Regions from separate parts of the Homo sapiens genome. Here region 2 is linked to region 1. Evidence: fine-mapped expression QTL. A gene starts in region 1. The other region holds a variant in brackets. All regions are shown on one strand. Distances are between the middles of the regions. Region 1 holds the start of E4F1 (E4F transcription factor 1). Region 2 overlaps NHERF2 (NHERF family PDZ scaffold protein 2).

Region 1 (11,552 bases):
CTTGGCTTCCTGGGCACTCTGTGAGCACCTAGGCCGCTGCACCGCTCCTTCCCTGCATTACCTCCTCAGAGTCACAGGACAGGCCTGAGAGGCAGGGATTATTCACATCTCCATTTATAGATGGCCAAACTGAGCCACCGAGAGTCGCCGGCTGGACAAGGTTGAGTTGGGATTAAACTCAGTCAACCCCAAAGCTGAGCTCTGCCCCATCTGGTCGGCTTAACGTCCTCAGAATATGCCTGTATGTGTGCAGGTAGGAGGGGAGGCATGGTCACTTGTGGGGAAGGTCCTGGCGGAGGCTGGGAGGAAAGTGCGCTTTATAGGAGAGGACTGACTTTGGGAACAGGGTGATGTGGCCCTGCATCTGGGGCTAGAGGACCCCTTTGGGTGCCCCCCACACAGGAGGCATTCAGTCTCTATCTGTGAGGGGATGGCCCCAGTGTCTCCCCAAGTAAGGATCTTGTACTGCAAGCCGACCTGGGGATGGCTTTCAGTGGCACGAGAACAGACACTATTTCACCTTAACAGAGTTGCATCAATTTACATTGCAATAGAAAATATAAGTAGCCCGCTAGGCGCGGTGGCTCACGCCTGTAATCCCAGCACTTTGGGAGGCCGAGGAGGGCAGATAACCTGAGGTCAGGAGTTAGAGACCAGCCTTACTAACATGGAGAAACCCCATCTCTACTAAAAATACAAAATTAGCCGGGCGTGGTAGCACACGCTTGGGAGGCTGAGGCAGAATTGCTTGAACCCAGGAGGCGGAGGTTGCAGTGAGCCAAGGTTGCACCACTGCACTCCAGCCTGGGTGACAGAGTGAGACTCGATCTCAAAAAAAAAAAAAAAAAGGATTTTGTAGTTCCTGTTTGGGTCTGGCTGTGGAATGTCCACAGGCATTATTCTGTTGAGCCAGGCTGAGGCCTGCATGGGAAAGGAGGCCGTTTGGAGAAAGGGAGGGTCTAGTCTTGCTGCCTGTGCCTGGCCTCTCTGCCTTCCAAGGGTCTATCCACTCCCATGCTTGCCAGTGGCCTGGGCTCTGGGCAAAGCAGGGCCTGAGGTCACCTGATCAGGATGCCCTTTTCTTTTTGAGATACGGTCTCACTTTGTTACCCAGGCTGGCGGGCAGTGGTGCCATCTCAGCTGACTGCAACCTCCGCCCCACCAGGTTCAAGCAATTCTCCTGCCTCAGCCTCCCTAGTAGCTGGGATTATAGGTGTGTGTCACCACACCTGGCTAACTTTTGTATTTTTTTTTTGTTCGTTTTGAGACCGAGTCTCGCTCTGTTGCCCAAGCTGGAGTGCAGTGGCGCGATCTCGGCTCACTGCAACCTCCGCCTCCGGGTTGAAGCGATTCTCCTGTCTCGCCCTCCCGAGTAGCTGGGACTACAGGCGTGTGCCACCACACCCGGCTGATTTTTTTTTTTTTTTTTTAGTAGAGACAGGGTTTCACCATGTTAGCCAGGATGGTCTCAATACCCTGACCTCGTGATCCGCCCTCCTTGGCCTCCCAAAGTGCTGGGATTACAGGCGTGAGCCACCGCGCCCGGCAACTTTTTTTTTTTTTTTTTTTTTTTTTTGAGACAGAGTCTCGCTCTGTTGCCCAGGCTGGAGTGCAATGGCATGATCTCGACTCACTGCAACCTCCACCTCCTAGGTTCAAGCGATTCTCCTGCCTCAGCCTCCTGAGTAGCTGGGATTACAGGCACATGCCACCAGGCCTGGCTAATTTTTGTATTTTTAGTAGAGACGGGGTTTCACCATGTTGGTCAGGATGGTCTTGAACTCCTGACCTTTTAATCCCCCCGCCTCGGCCTCCCAAAGTGCTGGGATTACAGGCATGAGCCACCGTGCCCGGCCCAACTTTTGTATTTTTAATAGAGATGGGGGTTTCTGCTGTGTTGGCCAGGCTGGTCTCAAACTTCTGACCTCAGATGATCCGTCTGCCTCGGCCTCCCAGAGTGCTGGGATTACAGGCGTGAGCCACCGCTCCCGGCCCCCTTTGCCTCTTAAAGGCCTCACCTCTTTTTTTATTTTTATTTTTATTTTTATTTTTATTTTTATTGATCATTCTTGGGTGTTTCTCACAGAGGGGGATTTGGCAGGGTCATAGGACAATAGTGGAGGGAAGGTCAGCAGATAAACAAGTGAACAAAGGTCTCTGGTTTTCCTAGGCAGAGGACCCTGCAGCCTTCCGCAGTGTTTGTGTCCCTGGGTACTTGAGATTAGGGAGTGGTGATGACTCTTAAGGAGCATGCTGCCTTCAAGCATCTGTTTAACAAAGCACATCTTGCACCGCCCTTAATCCATTCAACCCTGAGTGGACACAGCACATGTTTCAGAGAGCACAGGGTTGGGGATAAGGTCACAGATCAACAGGATCCCAAGGCAGAAGAATTTTTCTTAGTACAGAACAAAATGAAAAGTCTCCCATGTCTACCTCTTTCTACACAGACACGGCAACCATCCGATTTCTCAATCTTTTCCCCACCTTTCCCGCCTTCCTATTCTACAAAGCCGCCATTGTCATCCTGGCCCGTTCTAAATGAGCTGTTGGGCACACCTCCCAGACGGGGTGGTGGCCGGGCAGAGGGGTTCCTCACTTCCCAGTAGGGGTGGCCGGGCAGAGGCGCCCCTCACCTCCCGGACGGGGCGGCTGGCTGGGCGGGGGGCTGACCCCCCCACCTCCCTCCCGGATGGGGCGGCTGAAGGCCTCACCTCTTAATGCTGTTACATTGGGGATAAAGTTTCAGCATGAGTTTAGAGGGGACAATCATCCCATCCATACCCCTAAATCCCCTGGATACCGGCTTCTCAGTTACTCCTCAGCACACCATGAATGGAGGTCTTTTGGGGCTCTGCACTCACCTCCTCCATGGCTTCACCTCACCCACCTGTCTCCTGGTCCTCCTCCCCAGCAGCTCCCCAGAACCCTCAAGCTCCAAAAGCTCCAACCTGCTCTTCGTTCTGTTTGCCCCACTCAGAGACCACCCATTCTGGCTCTCAGTGGCTTTCTGAGCCCCTTCCTGCTTCTGCTTAAGCCCTAAAATCCCCTTTTTTTTTTTTTTTTTGAGACAGAGTCTCGATCTGTCACCCAGGCTGGAGTGCAGTGGCGAGATCTCGGCTCACTGCAACCTCCGCTTCCCGGGTTCAGGCCATTCTCCTGTCTCAGCCTCCCGAGTAGCTGGGACTACAGGCAGCCGTCACCACACCCGGCTAATTTTTGTATTTTTACTAGAGACGGGCTTTCACCATATTGGTCAGGCTGTCTTGAACTCCTGACCTCAGGTGATCTGCCCGCCTCAGCCTCCCAAAGTGTTGGGATTACAGGCGTGAGTCACTGGGCCCGGCCTAAAGTCCCTTTTTCTGTGCAGCAGTTAGAGGGATGTTTCTGCAACACCCACCATCATTCCCTCTGCTCAAAACCTTGCAGTGGTGAGCAACCTACTTGCAGAAAGCGGGCCCATTGTTACCCCAACCTGACTGCCGATCACCTTACCTGAGCCTGGAGGTGGAGGCTGCTAGGATCACACCAATGCACTCCAGCCTGGGTGACAGAGTGAGACCCTATCTCAAAGCAAACAAAACAGGGCCAGGCGCAGTGGCTCACGCCTGTAATCGCAGCACTTTGGGAGGCCAAGGCGGACGTATCACGAGGTCAAGAAATCAAGACCATCCTGGCTAACATGGTGAAACCCCATCTCTACTAAAAATGCAAAAAAATTAGCCAGGCATGGTGGCGGGCATCTGTCGTCCCAGCTACTCCGGAGGCTGAGGCAGGAGAATGGCGTGAACCCGGGAGGCGGAGGTGGCAGTGAGCCGAGATCATGCCACTGCACTCCAGCTTGGATGACAGAGTGAGACCCTCAAAAAACAAACAATGAAAGTCACATATTGTAGGACATGTTCACAACAGGTAAATTTATCATGGAGGCAGAAGGTAGACTGGCGTCTACCCAGGGCTGGCAGGGAGGGGCGGATGGGGAATCACTGCTTCAAAGGCACAGGTTTCCTTTCAGGGTGCCGGAAAGGTTCTGTACCCACATAGCTGTGATAGTTGCACAACACTGTGAATGTCGCTAATAGTAAATTTTATGTGCACTTACCACAGTTTTTTTTGAGACGGAATCTTGCTCTGTTGCCCAGGCCGGAGTACAGTGGCACGATCTCGGCTCACTGAAACCTCTGCCTCCCAGGTTCAAACGATTCTCCTGCCTCAGCCTCCTGAGTAGCTAGGATTACACGCGTGCACCACCACACCCAGATAATTTTTGTATTTTTAGTAAAGACGTAATTTTGCCATGTTGGCCTGCTTGGTCTTGAACTCCTGATGTCAGGTGATCCACCCACCTCAGCCTCCCAAAGTGCTGGGATTACGGGAGTGAGCCACTGTGCCTGGCCCACAATTTTTTAAAAGTATGTAAGAGGGCTGAGGCAGGCAGATCGCTTGAACTCAGGAGTTCTATAGCAGCCTAGGCAACATGGCAAAAACCCATCTCTACAAAATATACAAAAATTAGCTAGTGATGGGCACCTGTAGTCCCAGCTACTTGGGTGGTTGAGGTAGAGGCTGCAGTGAGCTGAGATCACGGCACTGCACTCCAGCCTGGGCGACAGAGCAAGGTGCTGTTTCAAAAAAAAATCTGGCCAGGCTCGGTGGCTCATGCCTGTCATCCCAGCACTTTGGGAGGCCAAGGGGGACGGATCACCTGAGGTCAGGAGTTCAAAACCAGCATGGCCAACATGGTGAAACTCCGTCTCTCCTAAAAATATAAAAAAATTAGCCGGGTGTGGTGGCAGTTGCCTGTAGTCCCAGCTACTCAGGAGGCTGAGGCAGGAGAATCGCTTGAACCTGGGAGGCGGAGATTGCAGTGAACCAAGATCGTGCCGTTGCATTCTAGCCTAGGTGACAGAGCGAGACTCCATCTCAAAAAACAAAAACAGGCCGGGCGCGGTGGCTCATGCTTGTAATCCCAGCACTTTGGGAGGCCGAGGCGGGCAGATCGTGAGGTCAAGAGCTTGAGACCATCTAGGCCAACATGGTGAAACCCTGTCTCTACTAAAAATACAAAAATTAGCTGGCCATGGTGGTGCACTCCTGTAGTCCCAGCTACTCGGGAGGCTGAGGCAGGACAATCATTTGAACCCAGGAGGCGGAGGCTGCAGTGAGATCGCGCCATTGCACTCCAGCCTAGGTGATAGAGTGAGACTCTGTCTCAAAAACAAACACCCCAAACAAACAAAAACCAAAAACAACCCCCATCTCCAAAACCAAAAATTCAACGTGGCTGGGAGTCGTGGCTCACGCCTGTCATCCTAGCACTTTGGGAGGCCGAAATGGGAAAATGGTTTGAGGCTAGGAGTTTGAGACCAGCCTAGTCTAAACAGCAAGACCCTGTCTCTATTTAAAATACATAATGCAAATAAATTTTAAAAAATTTAAAAAGTGGCTGGGCACGGTGGCTCACGCCTGTAATCCCAGCACTTTGGGAGGCCGAGGCGGGCGGATCACGAGGTCAGGAGATCGAGACCATCCTGGCTATCACGGTGAAACCCCGTCTCTACTAAAAATACAAAAAATTAGCCTGGCGTGGTGGCGGACACCTGTAGTCCCAGCTACTCAGGAGGCTGAGGCAGGAGAATGGCGTGAACCCGGGAGGCAGAGCTTGCAGTGAGCCGAGATCGCGCCACTGCACTCCAGCCTGGGCGATAGAAAGAGACTCCGTCTCAAAAAAGAAAGAAAAAAAAATTAAAAGTATATAAAAGAATAAAACAGCTTCGCAGAGCTACCCATGAGCCATCCCCGACCCGTGTTCTTTTCCCGTGACCCGGGTAACCATCTTGGGAGGCTCTAACACCCTAGGCGGTCAGTGGGCAGCAGGCACCACACCCCTGGTTGGAGCTGTGGCGGCTTCCCAGCAGCAGCCGCGGGCGGGGCGACCTGTCCTTAGGTACGGAAGCGCTGGGGCGCGGCTGCCTAGCAGCCGCCAGTCCGCTCGCCCCTCGCGTTCTCTGGCTCTCAAATCCGAGTGCAGCCTCGAACATAGGTCCTTCTGCCGCCCCGCCCCCTGGCTGGCAATCTGCTCCACCGTAACCACGCCCTCCCCACAGTCCCGCCCCATCTTCGCTCTCAGCGCGCCCGGCCCCGCCTCTGCCCTTTAAGGCCACACCGCTATCCAGGCCCGGCTCCCCGCCTGTCCGTCAATCCGCTCCGGTTCTGCCCCGCCCTCCTCTTGCCGTTCCCTCACGCTGGCCTCGGCGCGGCCCGTTGTTATGACGACATGGTCGTAAATCCGCCATCTTCCTGCGGCGCGTTGCGACATGGAGGGCGCGATGGCAGTGCGGGTGACGGCCGCTCATACGGCAGAAGCCCAGGCCGAAGCCGGGCGGGAAGCGGGCGAGGGTGCAGTTGCGGCGGTGGCGGCGGCCTTGGCCCCCAGCGGCTTCCTCGGCCTCCCGGCGCCCTTCAGCGAGGAAGGTAACCGGGCCGACCCGGAGGGTGCGGCCGGGGTGCGGGCAGTTCATCCCGGGCTGGCAGAGGCCCGGATGGCCCGAGCTGCGGGCTCGACCGACCCTCCCAGACCCAGACACCTCGCGGATCTCGCGGGACCCTCACAGCCCTCCACGAAACCCCCAGGTTTGCTGCGACCCTCACGGGCCTCTCCTGCGGGGCGCCTGTCATCCCCCCTCTCTGGTGTGCGTCCACAAGTGCTCGCGGGTTGCTGAGCCCCCGGGCGCCCGGTGTAGACATTCGCAGACGCCGGCGTCCCGGCCCTTCTCTGCCTCCGATGCCTGAGCCTGGCCCTCCCCTCCTCTGGGCCCCTTCCTCCTGCACCTGATGGGCGTCTAGGGCCCTGTTGGTGGTTCCAAGAGGGTGGGGCCTCGGTTTCTCCAGGATCTGGGCTCTGGGCCTGTCCGTAGGGAGGCAGCAGAGCCTAGTGCAAGAGGGCTGGTGCACTGCAGCCAGCCTGTGGCCCCTTCCAGTCCCACACTTGCCGCTTTCTAGTTCTTTGATCCTGGGTAGGTGACCCTACCTCTGTGAACCTCTATTTCCCCTACAGAATGGGGCGGCGGCTTCTGCCAGTAATGTAACAAGCCCTTATCCTGCTTTAGGTTTTTTCATTCTCAAACCAGTCCTGACAGGTGGATGTTATTGTTATTCTCATTTTGGGGATGAGGAAAATCGAAGGTTGGAGACCTGAAAGTGACCGGGTGGGCTGGGTGCGGTGGCTCACGCCTGTAATCCCAGCACTTTGGGAGGTCGAGACGGGCGGGTCACGAGGTCAGGAGATGGAGACCATCCTGGCCAACATGGTGAAACCCGTCTCTACTAAAAATACAAAAAAACAAAATTAGCCGGGCGTGGTGGCGGGCGCCTGTAGTGGGGAGGCTGAGGCGGAGAATGGCGTGAACTCGGGAGGTGGAGCTTGCGGTGAGCCGAGACCGCGCCACTGCACTCCAGCCTGGGCGGCAGAGCCGGACTCCGTCTCAAAAGAAAAGAAAATGACCAGGGTCACCCAGGTAGTTAAGTAGCAAGGGTTGGATTGGATCTCAGCACTGTGAAGGCCTTCACAGCCCCTTTAACTTCCGGGCTCTGCTGCCTCATAGAAGCATCATGGGAATTAAAATAAAGATTGTGGCCAGGCGCAGTGGCTCACGCCTGTAATCCCAGCACTTTGGGAGGCCAAGGTGGGTGGATCACCTGAGGTCAGGAGTTCGAGACCAGCCTGGCCAACATGGTGAAACCCCTTCTCTACTAAAAATACAAAAATTAGCTGGGCGTGGTGGTGCGCGTCTGTAATCCCAGCTACTTGGGAAGGTGAGGTAGGAGAATTGCTTGAGCCCAGGAGACGGAGGTCGCAGTAAGCCGAGATCGCACCACTGCTCTCCAGCCTGGGTGACAGAGCAAGACTGTCTCAAAAAAAGAAAAAAGATTGTGTGTCATGTGCCGAGAGCAGTGTTGGGGATGCACTAAGGGCTCATTCCTGGGGGCACTGAGAGCTTTTGGAGATGGAGCTTGGGTCTGTACCCTCTGAGCTTGTCCTATGAGGCTGCAGATGGCTGGGCACTGTGGCTCATACCTGTAACCCCAACACTTTGGGAGGCTGAGGTGAGAGGATCACTTGAGCCCAAGGAGTTCCAGACCAGCCTGGGCAACATAGTAAGACCCCGTCTCTATTTTCTTTTTTTTTTTTTTTGAGACGGCGTTTCTCTCTTGTTGCCCAGGCTGGAGTGCAATGGTGCGATCTCGGCTCACCGCAACCTCCGCCTCCCGGGTTCAAGCTATTCTCCTGACTCGGCCTCCTGAGTAGCTGGGATTACGGCACGCGGCATCACACCCGGCTAATTTTGCATTTTTAGTAGAGACTGGATTTCTCCATGTTGGCCAGGCTGGTCTTGAACTCCCGACCTCAGGTGATCTGCCCGCCTCAGCCTCCCAAAGTGCTGGGAATACAGTCGTGCGCCACCGTGCCCGGCTCCTCCCAGTCTCTGTTTAGGAAAAAAAAAAAAAAAAAAAAAAGGCTGGGCGCAATGGCTCGCGCCTGTAATCCCAGCACTTTGGGAGGCTGAGACGGGCGGATCCCGAGGTCAGGAGATCGAGACCACCCTGGCTAACAGGTGAAACCCTGTCTTACTAAAAATACAAAAAATTAGCTGGCCGTGGTGGCAGGCGCCTGTAGTCACAGCTTCTCAGGAGGCTGAGGCAGGAGAATGGCATGAGCCCAGGAGGCAGAGCTTGCAGTGAGCTGAGATCGCCCCACTGCACTCCAGCCTGGGCAACAAAGCGAGACTCCGCCTTGAAAGAAAAAAAAAAAAGATGCAGATTGGGTCAGACAGGAAGGGAGGTTGTTAATGATTGGGTTGAGGGTGGTCTTGTCTTTGTCCCCATAGGATTCATAGTCTCTGCCTTTTTTCCTTGCCCCTTCTCGTTCCAGCTTGGAGAAGGGCAGTGCCCTCATGGCGAGGAGTCCCTTTAGAGGTTGCTGGGCCTGCTTGTGGCCTTGTCTGGTGTGAAATGGGCTGGGTGTGTCCCCTTCTGGGGTAGGGGGTTCTTCAGTGGCAATGCCCTGGAGCCGAGTGAGACACAGGAGTAGGGTGGGAAGGGGAAGAGGGTGGTGGGCACCTTAGAGCTTGGTTTGTGACTGGGAGCCATCAGGAGAGGACGACTCTGTTGGGTGGCCCCTGCAGGCGAGTCATAGCTGTGGTTTGGCCCTTTCTCCGCCCTCAAATTCAACAGTAAACATTTGCCCAGCTCCTTCGGGCATCAGGCCTGGGTTTGATCCTGCCGAGGGACTGAAGGTGAATGGTCAGAGCTGGCAGGCTTTTATGGAAGCAGAAGAAACAGCTCCTATCCCTTTGTGTAAACAGGTACTGTCCCTGACACTCAGCCGTTTGGTGACCTTGAACTTCAGGTCATTTTCCTAGGATGGGAATAGTTCTCTCCATTTCCACAGGGTGCTGGCAAGATTTGGTGACGTCCCCAGTGAGGTGCTTGGCACACAGTGAGGGGGTGGTCTCTTCTGCACGACCGGGGTCCGGCACAGCAATGGTGACGGGCTCAACCTTGGGAACCAGTAAAGTCCCAAGTCAGTGAGCAGAGTGGTTGTGGGTCAGCTCCCTGCATTTGCCTCTCAGCCAGAGCCAGTGGGCATCAGTCTCCTGGGCCCCAGCCCATTTTACAGATGAGGAGATGGCCACTCACATGCTCCAGGGCACGCTCAAACTCCCGCAGTTTTTGTTTGTTTGTTTTGTTTTTGTTTCTTTTAAGGCAGGGTCTTGCCCTGTTGCCCTGGCTGAAGTGCAGTGGTGTGATCATGGCTTACTGCAGCCTCCACCCCTGGGCTCAATCAATCCTCCTGAATAGCTGGGACTACAGGTGCATGCCGCCACACTTCCACGCTTGGCTAAATGTTTGTTTTTTGGTTTTGTTTTTTGAGATGGAGTCTCTCTCTGTTGCCCCGGCTGGAGTGCAATGGGGAGATCTTGGCTTACTGCAACCTTCGCCTCCCAGGTTGAAGTGATTCTCCTGCCTCAGCCTCTCGAATAGCTGGGATTACAGGCATGCGCCACCAAGCCTGGCTAATATTGTTTTTTTTGAAACGGAGTCTCGCTCTTTCGCCCAGGCTGGAGTGCAGTGGTGTGATCTCGGCTCACTGCAAGCTCTGCCTGCCGGGTTCATGCCATTCTCCTGCCTCAGCCTCCCGAGTAGCTGGGACTATAGGCACCTGCCACCATGCCTGGCTAAGTTTTTTGCATTTTTAGTAGAGACGGGGTTTCACGGTGTTAGCCAGGATGGTCTCAATCTCCTGACCTCATGATCCGCCCGCTTCAGCCTCCCAAAGTGCTGGGATTACAAGCATGAGCCACCGCCCTAATTTTGTATTTTTAGTAGAGATGGGATTTCACCATATTGGTCAGGCTGGTCTCGAACTCCTGACCTCAGGTGATACACCTGTCTCAGCCTCCCAAAGTGTTGGGATTACAGGTGTGAGCCACCACACCCAGCCTAAATGTTTAACAATGTTTTAAAAACTTTTTTTTTTTTTTTTTTGGTAGAGATGGGTCTTGCTATGTTGACCAGGCTCGTCTTGAACTCCTGGGCTCAAGCTATCCTCCCACCTTGGCCCCTTAAAGTGCTGAGATTACAAGTGTGAGCCACCATGCCCGGCCCCAGCAGTCTTAAATCCTGGTCCTTTACTGTCCCCAAATTAGCATGGAGGAGTCCCTCTGCCTCCCAGCCCCTCTCTGGGCCTCTCGCCTGTCAGTCGCTGAGGTGGGTTTTGAGCATGGCAGCCTTAGCAGGTCCCTGCAGCCTAAGCGTGCTGTCAGGGCCACCCTCTGCTGGGTGCTGACCTCCTGAGGGTGGGTCTGGCCCCTGCAGACCTGCAGAGGATAGGGGCTGTACCTTGGGATGACCTTGTTTTGGGCCCGAGTGTGTTCTCAGCAGCCTGGGGAAGTAGCTCTGCTTCTGATGGCCTCCTGGGGGAATCTGTTCTAGGGCTGGAGGAAAAGCCAGACGGAGCCCTGGCTGCCCAGCCTCCGCCTTCCCAGGCCCTGCTGACAGCAGGCTCGTTGCAGATGAGGACGATGTGCACAGATGCGGCCGCTGCCAGGCAGAGTTCACCGCCTTGGAGGATTTTGTTCAGCACAAGATTCAGAAGGCCTGCCAGCGGGCCCCTCCGGAGGCCCTGCCTGCCACCCCTGCCACCACAGCGTTGCTGGGCCAGGAGGTGAGCCCTCACCCACTCCCCCATCCCCTCCCGGGTTCACCTGACAGGTGGGGGAGGTGGCCGCGCTTCAGGATGGACCTGTGCAGCCGGTTCCGGGGGCCACGTGGGCGGGCAGAGGGCAGGCACCTGGCTGCGGTGTGGGAGGGTCCGGGTGTGTGAGCCTGTGGTGCTCTGGGGCGTCCTGGAGGGCCTGCGGTGGCCCAGCCTTCTTGGCAGCCTCTGGTCGAAGCCCGTGCTGTTGGGGGCCGGGATCTCTTCTTTCTTGGAGCTGGAGGGTCTCCTTTGGCTCTGGGGTACCATGGCAGCTTCTGTCTCTTTGGCTTAT
Region 2 (11,552 bases), 190 kb before region 1:
CCCACTCCTCCCCCTAGATACAAGGGAGGGCCCTGGGACCCTGTCTGCTGTTCCTCCTGGACTCCTGCTGGGTAGTACTTCCTCCTTCCCCTGCCCTTGCTCCCAGCCAGGAGACCCAGAAAAGTACAGGGGCGGCCTGCTCCACCTCCTGCTAGGTGGCCGACTGGGAGGGGCGGCCTGGCAGGCCTTGGGGACCAGGAGGAACAGCCTGAAGCTGTCTGTCTTATCTTCCTGGAGGCCCTGATGGCATTATCTCCATGTTCTCTCCTACCTTTTTTTTTTTTTTTTTTTCATTTTCAAAGAGAACCCTGGCCGGGTGCGGTGGCTCACGCCTGTAATCCCAACACTTCGGGAGGCTGAGATGGGTGGATCACCTGAGGTCAGGAATTTTGAGACCAGCTTGACTAATGTGGTGAAACCCCCGTCTCTACTAAAAATACAAAAATCAGTTGGGCATGGTGGGGCACGCCTATAGTCCCAGCTACTTGGGAGGCTGAGGCAGGAGAGTCGCTTGAACCCGGCAGGCGGAGGTTTCAGTGAGCCGAGATCCCGCCATAGCACTCCAGCCTAGGCGACAGAGTGAGACTGTCTCAAAAAAAAACAAAAAAAGGAAAAGAAAGAAATCCCTTCAGGGGATATGAGTCCAGGGGTTGGCCAGACCCCACTGTGAGAACCGCGCTTGGGGCAGGGGTGTGGGATCTGGAGTTCTGAGGGTGCAGGGGATATACACATTCACTTTCTCCCTTTCCCAGACGTCACTGCTGAAGCTGGCTGCCCCTAGGAGCTGAGCCCGGGGGGAGCGGCTTGGCAGGGAGACAGCATTCCCTGTGGGGAGCCCAGCCTGGGCGCAGGCCTGCCCGTGGGACCTGTGGGACCCGTTTTGTTCCTGGGGCTTGAGGGCGGGCCACAGTGGTGCTCAGGGCCAAGGTGCCCAGCCCAGGGCTGGTGGGGGGGCTGGCCTTGCAGGGGGGCTGGCTGGTCCTAAGCCCCTGTCTCCAGGCTGAGGGTTGGGGCCTCCCTCTTTCCCAGCCACCTTCCCTCCCCCAGGAGGAAGCTCCCCCTCTGCCTCAGGCGTTTGTCCATTGATTTGGACACAAACGCATGGTTCACCTTCCTGTGGAAAAATCCGGCCCTCGGACTTTATCTGGAGGGTGCAGTGGCCCAGGCACCTTGCCTTGGGTGGGACCTTCCCCCTCTGCTATTTCAGGCTCTGGGGGCTGCAGGAAGCCCTAGGAGGGGCTTCCTCTGGGTGTATTTTTAGAGGAACAAAGGGTGGCCTGAGTGGCAGGTCCCTTTGTGCATGAGTCTGGCTGGGGACAGGGGCTCCAGGAGGTCAGGGGGCACCCAAGGAACAGGGTCTCCCCTTCTCTCTTCTGGCATCAAGACCTGAGGTTTCTTTTTCTTTTTCTTTCTTGGCTCACTACAACCTCCGCTGTCTGGGTTCAAGCGATTCTCTTGCCTCACCCTCCCCAGTAGCTGGGATTACAGGCGCGCACCACCACACCTGACTAATTTTTGTGTTTTTAGTAGAGACGGGGTTTCACCATGTTGCTCAAGCTGGTCTCGAACTCCTGATCTCAGGTGATCTGCCCTCCTCGACCTCCCAAAGTTCTGGGATTACAGGTGTGAGCCACTGTACCCGGCCCCTGAGGTCTGAGGTTTCATTTCTTTCTTTCTTTTTTTTTTTTTTTGAGACGGAGTTTCACTCTGTCGCCCAGGCTGGAGTGCTGTGGTGCGATCTCGGCTCACTGCAAGCTCCGCCTCCTGGGTTCAAGCAATTCTTATGTCTCAGCCTGCTGAGTAGCTGGGATTACAGGCGTGTACCACCACACCTGGCTAATTTTTGTGTTTTTGGTAGAGACAGGGTTTCACCGTGTTGGCCAGGCTGGTCTCAAACTCTTGGGCTCAAGTGATCCGCCTGCCTCAGCCTCCCAAAGTGCTGGGATTACAGGTGTGAGCCCCTGCGCCTGGCTCAGGACCTGAGGTTTCTTCACCTGAGCTCCCAGCATGGGCAGGAAGAGGTGGGCCTCACCTGACCTCCACAGAGCAGGCTCAGATCCTGCCCTTCTCAGCCTGGGTTCAGGGCATGCCTCAGATGGTCAGGGAGCCCAGGAGGGCAAAGCTTACCTTGCGGGGATGGCTCCAGTGGGGGCACTGGTGGCAGAGAGGCAGAGCTCTGGAAGGGATGTGTGTAGTTTGTCTTTGGTGAAGGATGGAGAGGGCCCAACTTTGGGTGCCCCCTGGGAGCTAAGGGTGGCTCTCAGTGTCCTCTGTCCTGGCTGGGGATAGGGGAGGTGGGCAGGGGAGGACACTGATGTGGTTGGCCCCTCCTTTTGGGGGCCGTGAAGGCCTAGTTAGTGATGACTCAGCCCTGGGCCACACCAGGCTGGGGGTGGCCGCAGCTGCAGTGCAGCTGATCCTAGTAGTGACGACAGGGGACAGCCCCCAAACAGAGACGGGGTGGCCAGCGGTGCCAGGCCCTGGAGGTGGTGGCAGACCCTGAGCCCTCTGCCCCCTGCCCCTAGCCCATGTCTCCACCCCCATCTGGAGGGCCTTGGGGGCTAAGAGCAGGTGTGAGGGGTGACAGTTCTGCGGGAGGCGGCTGTGTGGTTGGGGCGCGGTGCCTGCGGGGGCTTCCGGGCTTCCCTGGCTCTTGCTCCTCTGGAGCCTCAACAGGACCGTCCTGTGTTCTGGGGCCGGGACTCCTCCCTGTCCCCTCAGCCCTGGGTCCTGGGGCAGGGCAGGGCCTTCCAGCAGCTTCCTTCCTTCCTTTCTTGGGACGGAAGCCTAGCTGGGTGGGGGGCGCCAGGCTGGAGCCTTCGCAGGGGAGCGGGCTCAGTCATCACCCTGCTCCCCAGAGTGACTCAGCCCCCACGTCCCCACCCATCCCCGGGGAGCCAGGGCCGCAGAGGGAGGTAGATAAGTGGGGTGGCAGCCTGGGTCGGCCAGAGAGTTCAGGCCACCCCGGCCGGACGCCTGCCACTTGCTGTCACTGTGCCGCTGTCATGGCACGCTCCGGGAGTGCCACGCCACCTGCCCGGGCTCCGGGAGCCCCTCCACGGAGCCCACCCCAGAGGCTGGTACAGGTCAGGTGGGGTGGGAGGAAGGGAGGGCTAGGAGGAACCGGCAGCCGCTCAGCCTCCCGGGGTGGAAGGAGGGGACTCCGGGACCTTGATGTAAGCAGGCTGGTCGCTGAGCAACAATGAAGGCCTTTCTCTGCCAGGGCTGGTGCGTCACCATCTGGGGGGGTGCCCAGGGTACCCCCATGCCAGCCTCTTTGTCCGGACACAGGCATGGCTGGGGGACCAGGGATGGTCCAGCTCTGTGCTGGCCGCCGGCAGGGAGGGAGCCTGGAGCCCGTGGGAGCCCGAGGGCCTGGCGGGAGGCGGCAGGAAGTGTGTGCTGAGCCAGGGCAGGGAGGAGGAATGTGAGCTATGAACGCCGCCCGAGCTCCTCGGCTCTCTGGGCCCCCCTTCCCCACGAGCCCATGTGCTGCCAGCAGCCCACCCTGGCCCCTCCATTGCAGCCCCTCCACCTGAGGTTTTAGTGCTGTGCCTGGCGCCACTGGGACCCTGCTGACAATGAAGGGGTTTAGGTTTGATAGGCAGAACTTCTTGCCTTGTAGAGTGAAAGACGGCTGCTTCTGGACAGAGGCAGAGGGGTGGCCAGAATGACCCTGAGAACACTGAGGGGTCCTTGGCCTGGCCTCAGGGCCCCAGACACCCACCAGATCCTGCTTCCTGTCTGGTGCCCTGAGAAACCCTGCCCCGCAGGCCGCTGTGCAGGCGTGGGAAGGGCTGCCGGGCCAGCACTGTGGGGCTGGCCGCATGTGTGGGCTGCTGTGCGTGTTTGCAGGTGTGTGTGGACGTCTTGTGTCTGTGGCTGTGTGATGTGTCTTTGCGGACTGGGCCCATATCACGCTCCCACCTCCTCCACTGAATTGGGCTCCTGTCCCCACGCCTTCCCTGCGTCCCAGGCCAGCCTGGGGGCCGTGCTCCACCTCCCCTCCCGAACTGGACTCCTGTCCCCACGCCTTCCCTCCGTCCCAGGCCAGCCTGGGGGCCGTGCTCCACCTCCCCTCCCGAACTGGACTCCTGTCCCCACGCCTTCCCTCCGTCCCAGGCCAGCCTGGGGGCCGTGCTCCACCTCCCCTCCCGAACTGGACTCCTGTCCCCACGCCTTCCCTCCGTCCCAGGCCAGCCTGGGGGCCGTGCTCCACCTCCCCTCCCGAACTGGGCTCCTGTCCCCACGCCTTCCCTCCGTCCCAGGCCAGCCTGGGGGCCGTGCTCCACCTCCCCTCCCGAACTGGACTCCTGTCCCCACGCCTTCCCTCCGTCCCAGGCCAGCCTGGGGGCCGTGCTCCACCTCCCCTCCCGAACTGGGCTCCTGTCCCCACGCCTTCCCTCCGTCCCAGGCCAGCCTGGGGGCTGTGCTCCACTTCCCCTCCCGAACTGGACTCCTGTCCCCACGCCTTCCCTGCGTCCCAGGCCAGCCTGGGGGCCGTGCTGTGACTGCATCCCTGAGGGGCACTTTGGTGGGCAGGTGTCAGGGTCAGCCTTGAAGCCCCACGCCTGTGCCACCAGGTGTGTCTGGGGGAGGAGTGAGTCTATGTGGTGGGGCCCTGGAGATTTTGGGGGTCTTGCACCCTCTAATTCAGCCCATGTGGCCCAGCTGAGCCCCTGTGGGGCCAGGGAGCCACAGGCTTGTCCCTGGAGTTTCTGGTGTGACGGGCTGGGTGGTGGCCATGCAGAGAGGGTTCAGAGGGTGGGCAGGAGGCTTCAGATGAGGCATCTGGCAGGCTGGACAGGAGAAGGGTGTTCCAGACCAAGGGCAGGTCCTGAGCCCAGGGGACAGAGCACTAGCTGTGTGGAGAAGGACCCCCTTGCTCCCTTGGCGGGGCGGTCCCCCCCGCTGACATGGCCGTTTCTGGTCCATTGGGGTTTGGAGCGAGCTTGAAGGTGGGTGGCTGGAGGGGTTGGGGGTGTCTGAGGCCTGGAGACCTGCCCTCCTGAGGTCTGAGCGCCCCCTTGCCATGCCGCCCCAGCCCTGGCCTGGCCTGGCCTGTGGTCCCTCAGGGACACACAGGGAGGTAGGAGGTGAGGGAAGGGCCCTGGCAGCCCCCAGCCCGCCTGCACAGTCTCCCCTGCGCACGCCCTCAAGCTTGGCGCTCCCTGGAAACCTGAGCTGCCTCCTGCCTGCTCCGGCCACCGCCATGTTTAACTGAGCACGGGCAGCCGCTGGCCACCGCCGCCGCACCCTGGCCCACCCCCTGGCTGGGAGGTGGTCATTGGGCCTGGCCTTGCCTGCATGGTCCCCTGGCCCAGAGCCCTACCGCAGGATGCCAGAGGTAACATGGGGCAGGGCCTGGGATGGTAGCGGGGGGTCCTTCCGGGCACCAGGAGGCCCTCTGTGCCCTGTCCACACTAAGCTCCTGCCCCAGCCCCTGCTTGCTGGGCCCACGGGGGTGGGGCGGCTCATTTTCCTGGAATGTGAAAGCAAACAGAGCCGCCACCGCAGCCAGCCCCACGGAGGCCTCTGGAGAGAAAACAAAACTGCTGGCCTAGGAGCGCCTGCCCCACGCTCTGGAGGAGAGCCCGGGGCAGGGGGACGCACAGGCAGAGCCCTCAGGGACAACCGCCCCAGGAGGCCAACGGCGACAGTTCATCCCACCTGGTGCTTCCTCCCACCCTGCCTGTGCGCCACGCTGGCCTCGAGCCAAAGGAATTCTCCCAGCAACCCGGGAAGGCGGCTGGGCCCGTCGGGGAGGCTTCTGGGTTTGAAAACAGGCTTTGCCCAAGTTCCCACAGCTAAAGCTCTGTCACAGGCAGCCTGGGTGCCCGGAGTGTTTGCCACTGAGACCTGGGCCTGCCCGTGGGGGGCACGGTACCGAGTTTGGGCAGTGGCGGCACCACCGGGGAGTGGCCTCTGGAGGCGGGAGGCTGGAGCAAGAGACTGACCCTGTCC[G/C]TTGGGCCTGCAGGATGTCAGTGGGCCCCTGAGGGAGCTGCGCCCTCGGCTCTGCCACCTGCGAAAGGGACCTCAGGGCTATGGGTTCAACCTGCATAGTGACAAGTCCCGGCCCGGCCAGTACATCCGCTCTGTGGACCCGGGCTCACCTGCCGCCCGCTCTGGCCTCCGCGCCCAGGACCGGCTCATTGAGGTACCGGCCCACCAGGGCTGCGGGGTGCCGAGTGCCCCGCACCTGTCCACACTGGGGCCCTGGGTCCTTGCAGGGAGGAGGGAGACGCTGGGAACCTGAGCTGGTGCGCCTCCTGCTGCCTCGGTGGGCGGTGGCTGTGATGAATATTTGATGCCACACCTGGCCACGCGGCGTTGGGGGCTGTCTGGGCCCATGGCGGGGCTGATACATGCTGGTGGCGGCAGGTGAACGGGCAGAATGTGGAGGGACTGCGCCATGCTGAGGTGGTGGCCAGCATCAAGGCACGGGAGGACGAGGCCCGGCTGCTGGTCGTGGACCCCGAGACAGATGAACACTTCAAGCGGCTTCGGGTCACACCCACCGAGGAGCACGTGGAAGGTGGGCCACGGCCCAGGGCACAGGGTGGGTGCGGTGTGGTGGCTGAGCAGCCACTGACACGCTGTCCCCACAGGTCCTCTGCCGTCACCCGTCACCAATGGAACCAGCCCTGCCCAGGTAAGAGGGTGGGGTGCCCATGAGACACAGGGTGCCTCTGGGGGTACCCAGGCCCGACAGAGGCCCCCTTCTCCCTGGAGATCCGTCCTCGAGGTGTGCTAGTGACACCCGATTTTAGCCCTGTCACCTCCCTTTAATGCCCCTGTGGGTCTCATCCTGGGTCGTGCCACACACAAGCCACGTGGGGCCCCTGGGGTCGGGGCCACTGCCTTCTGTCCTCTCCTGGGCACCACCTGGTAAGGAGTTGCCCTCCAGTCTCTGCCTCCTCAGGGAGCTGGCGGTGGCCTCACCCCAGGCGTTGCTCACGCCGGCCATTCCTGCACCTGAACCCCCTCTGCACCATGAGCCGGCCAGGCCACCTGCCTGTCACTGCCAGGCGCCCGGTGCCTGCCCCGCCGCATCTGGAGTCCACCAGAGGCCCGAGGCCCCCTGCCGAGTGGAGGAGCACACACTGGGGGGGGGTGTGCCTCTGTGCACATGTGTGCGTGTGCAGGTGTTGTGTGTGTCTGTGAAACCACAATCTGCCCTTGGTTTCCCAGCTCAATGGTGGCTCTGCGTGCTCGTCCCGAAGTGACCTGCCTGGTTCCGACAAGGACACTGAGGTATGGATGTTCTCCACTCCTGAGCTCACACGTGGGGTTGCTAGAGGCCTTGGGGTAGGCGTCTGTGGAGATGTCAGCCCGGGCAGTGGGGTCTCTGTTCAGGAAGTCCTCGTGAGCCCCAGCCCCAGCAGGCAGCCTCTGTTGGTTGCTCCCTAGGAGGGGCCACCGTCTGGGGTGTGGGACTAGGGCTCACTCCAGACACCCCACCCACCGTGCTCACCCCAGGATGGCAGTGCCTGGAAGCAAGATCCCTTCCAGGAGAGCGGCCTCCACCTGAGCCCCACGGCGGCCGAGGCCAAGGAGAAGGCTCGAGCCATGCGAGTCAACAAGCGCGCGCCACAGATGGACTGGAACAGGAAGCGTGAAATCTTCAGCAACTTCTGAGCCCCTTCCTGCCTGTCTCGGGACCCTGGGACCCCTCCCGCACGGACCTTGGGCCTCAGCCTGCCCCGAGCTCCCCCAGCCTCAGTGGACTGGAGGGTGGTCCTGCCATTGCCCAGAAATCAGCCCCAGCCCCGGTGAGCCCCCATCCTGCCCCTGCCCACCAGGTACTGGGGGCCTGTGGCAGCAAGATAGGGGGAGAGAGACCCAGAGATGTGAGAGAGAGTCAGAGACAGAGACAGAGAGAGAGAGAGAGAGACACAGAGAGAGACAGAGAGAGAGCGAGCGAGCGCGCGGCAGCCGCGGGGCGAGGGCCTTTGCTGCTCTGCCGGGGCCTGCTGACTGAAAGGAATTTGTGTTTTTGCTTTTTTTCCAAAAAGATCTCCAGCTCCACACATGTTTCCACTTAATACCAGAGACCCCCCCCCTTCCCCTCCCCCTTCCCCTCCCCCTTGGGACGCGCTCTAAATAATTGCAATAAAACAAACCTTTCTCTGCAAACCATTTCCTCCCCGCCCCCTCCCCTCAGCAGCGGCCGTCCTGAGTGGGAGTCCCTGGGACTTCCCAGTGGCCAAGTTGGGGCGCCCAGCCTCTTCGTGGGGACCTTGGGTAAGGCCAGGGAGGCCTGATGTGGCCGTAGGAGCTGCCCCTGCCCACCTGCCCTGGTGTGGGGGTCCCTAGGCCACACCCTGCTCCCCACCCAGCTACCCTGTGCGCCTGTGCCCTGCTGGGGGCCTGGGCTCTCCGAGGGGCCTGAGGATGGAGGCCCCACGTCCCCGAGGAGGGCGGCCTCTGGACAGGCCCCTCATTCCGCGCGGCAGCTCCCAGGCCTGGGGAACGTAGGTGTGTGAGAGCGGCACCCGGGAAGGACGCCTGGCCTCTGGCTCAGCCCTGCTTGGCGGGCTCCCCCGTGGACACCCTGTTGACTTTGCACTTCCCTCCCGGGCCCCGCACCCCCGAACCGACCACCGATCGACCGGCACCGCTGTTGCCTCGTAAGCCATAGCGCATGCGCGCTCTCAGGATAAACAGGCCCTGCCTGGGACCCACACGCCTCTGTCTTTTCTGAGCCTCCTCCCCGTGGGGTGAGAGGGGTGGAGGGATGAGGCTGTTTCAGGGAGCCCCCTCCCCGAGTCTCAGCAGCTGGAAACGGTCTCGTTCCTGAGCCCGTGCCCTGCATCCATCTGCTCCCAGCCCTGCTCCATCTCCCCCGCTGACCCCCATGGGACCCCCTGCTGTGTGGCACATCCTGGGCCCATGCCCATCTCTCTTATTTGGCAGACTCAGCCTCCCACCTTCACCTTCCCTGTGAAGCCATCCGGCCCCACACAACACCCACACGGGCCACCCTTTGCCCAATTCACCCTGCGACCTCTAGCAGTCACAGGTCAAGCTTTGTACCCTGTGGCGCCCTGCCTGGGTCCCCAGTGTCCCTTTCAAGGCCGGGTAGCTCTGTAAACAGGGGTGGGACCCTGGCAGAGGCTGGGCTTTGAGGGCATGAAAGTTCAGGAGCTGGCGGTGTCCGGGCTGGGAAGCTGGGGGGCCGGCGGTGGATAGCATGAGGGGCCAGGGTCCCCAGCCAGCTGCCCGGGGGCTGCTTGCTTCCCCAGCGGACTTCCAACAGCTGGCTGCAGCTGGCTCTCCCCACTTCCTCCCTCCCAGGTTCATGCACACCCCCTCCCCCTCCCTGAGTACATAGCAAAGATTGTCACGTCCCCAGCCGGCCTCCCAGGCAGCCCTGCTCCAGACACGCGAGCACGGGTGTGTACGAACACATCCTTGTATGCGATTCCCAGGCTCTCTGCCCCCTCAGGGACAGACATCAGCCAGATCCCATCTGCAAACACACCAAAGCTTTATTCAACAGGCGTGGCTTCCTGAAGCGTAAAGCCACTTCACAGACGGTGGCCACAGCGGCACCTCGGCCAGAGCCATGCGGCCATCAGAGACCCTGGGCGGCCGGGCAGAGGGCTTGGTTGAGGCAGGCGTGGCAGCGAGGGTGCACAGGCAGACAGGTCTGCTGGCCGAAGCCCACCAAGAGTCCATTGATCTCGTGCCACAGCTCCCTGTGGGGGTGGGGGCTGGGTCAGTGCTGACAGAGGGCGGGCGGGGTGAGCTCTTCTCCCTAGGAAGCCCCCCACATACTCATACCTAGGCAGCCACTCCTCCAGGGCGGCGCGGGTCTCCTCTGGGGACTTGGTTGCCTTCTTGGTCCACCTCAGCCTGTTGGCGATTCTGTGCACATGCGTGTCCACTGCTGCTGGGAGGCCAAGCGGGGTGAACAGGGGCACACTCCACCAGCCTAGCCCGTGCCCCTCCCCGCCCAGAGGCGAGTCTGCCACCACCCCCGTGGCCCTCCAGTTAGACATTGGAACCGCAAAGCCCTGGCTGCAAGCCTACATGTGACCATCTTGGCTGCCCCTGAGGTGCTGGGGCAGGGGCTGAGCCCTCTGTTGGGGTGCAGGCCTCTCTCCCATCACCTGAGCCAGCCTGGGGGGCTCTGTTCTGGGCTGCCCACTCCCAACACTGGTGCTAGTTGGATGTGTGGGTGGTGGGGTCTCTGCTTTGGGCAGGGCCTGGGGGTGATGACTCGGCTCTGCTTGGAGCTCTATTCCCCACAATAACAGCGACAGCTCGCTTGGACAAACGCTTGCTGGGGGCCAGACCCTGCCAGAGAGATTGGCCAGCTCAGTGAGTCCTCATGAGGTCCTACGGATGCTGAAACCGAGGCCCGGCAGGATCCCGACTCCGAAGCACCTCTCAGCCCTCAGCCTCCCCAGGAACGTGGCCCTGTCCCCGGAAGGGTCCATCCAGGCTTCCCTCTGTCTGTCTCCTGTGGCCTGAGGCTCCTCTCGGCATAAGCACTGGCTCTGGGCACCAGGCTGGGTGGCAACAGCTCTGCCTGGCAGGCCGGCATGAGGTCACTGCCTGCAGACCTAGCACCTGCCACTGCAGCGGTCAGGGACACAGCGGGAGCATGCCCTGGCCGGCCGCAGCTGCTGTCCACCTGGGTTCTGGCTCCTGCTCCCCTCAGCTGGCCACCCCAGGCGTCTGCTCACTGGGGCTCCCTTCTCCCACCCGGTGGCCCCGGCCAGCTGCAGCCCCAGCCCTGCCTCCTCCTCCCGTGTTTCCCAAAGAGAAAGCCGAGGCCTGCACCAGCTCCTTCGCTGCTGCCTAGAAAAAGGTGTCCGAGGGTGTGGGGAGACCACAAGGCCTGAGGGGTCACACCCCTGGGGCTCTGAGCCTCAGTTTCCTCCTCTGTAACACGGAAGTGGCCATGCTTCAAGGCTGAGTCAGGCCACGTCACGTTGTGTGAGCCTCCTGCCCACCTGGACAGTGAATGACGAGGACTGCCTCACCCACTTTGTGGCCAGAGCTTAGAGAAGCCAAGGGCCTGGCCCAGAGTCACCCAGCCAGGAGGTGCAGAGCTGGGACCGGAGCCAGCAATCTATGGCTGTGGCATTTTTTTTTTTTTTTAAACGGAGTCTTGCTCTGTCACCCAGGCTGGATACAGACAATGGTGCGATCTCCACTCACTGCAACTTTCGCCTCTGGGTTTCAAGCGATTCTCCTGCCTCAGCCTCCCGAGGAGCTGGAATTACAGGCTCCTGCCACCACGCCCGGCTAATTTTTTTTTTTTTGGTGAGACGGAGTCACGCTTTGTCGCCCAGGCTGGAGTACACTGGCGCGATCTCAGCTCACTGCAAGCCCCACCTCCCAGGTTCACACTATTCTCCTGCCTCAGCCTCCCGAGTAGCTGGGACAACAGGCGCCTGACACAATGCCTGGCTAATTTTTTGTGTTTTTTAGTAGAGACGGGGTTTCACCATCTTAGCCTGGATGGTCTTGATCTCCTGACCTCGTGATCTGCCTGCCTCGGCCTCCCAAAGTGCTGGGATTACAGGCGTGAGCCACCA

Evidence for each region. PIP is the estimated chance that this variant, and not a neighbour inherited with it, causes the effect.
Region 2: its variant is fine-mapped to the expression of E4F1 in whole blood (TOPMed, PIP above 0.99).

Annotation. Positions count from the first base shown.
Region 1 is chr16:2,217,297-2,228,848 of GRCh38, forward strand. It overlaps E4F1 (E4F transcription factor 1), which reads left to right and starts at 6,295. Exons shown (of 14, transcript NM_004424.5): 1 at 6,295-6,474; 2 at 11,076-11,227. The coding sequence starts at 6,318. RefSeq lists enhancers at 2,635-3,259, 6,190-6,359, 6,590-6,729, 7,985-8,485 and silencers at 5,990-6,129, 6,420-6,509.
Region 2 is chr16:2,030,347-2,041,898 of GRCh38, forward strand. It overlaps NHERF2 (NHERF family PDZ scaffold protein 2), which reads left to right. Exons shown (of 7, transcript NM_001130012.3): 3 at 5,978-6,157; 4 at 6,382-6,535; 5 at 6,609-6,652; 6 at 7,192-7,254; 7 at 7,480-8,680. The coding sequence ends at 7,638. NTHL1 (nth like DNA glycosylase 1) reads right to left here. Exons shown (of 6, transcript NM_002528.7): 5 at 9,787-9,892; 6 at 9,474-9,701. The coding sequence ends at 9,578. Among named protein-coding and RNA genes, the nearest start is that of NHERF2, 9.2 kb to the left of the region's middle. RefSeq lists enhancers at 2,213-2,797, 6,302-6,884. The variant G/C (reference allele first, on the strand shown) is at 5,965.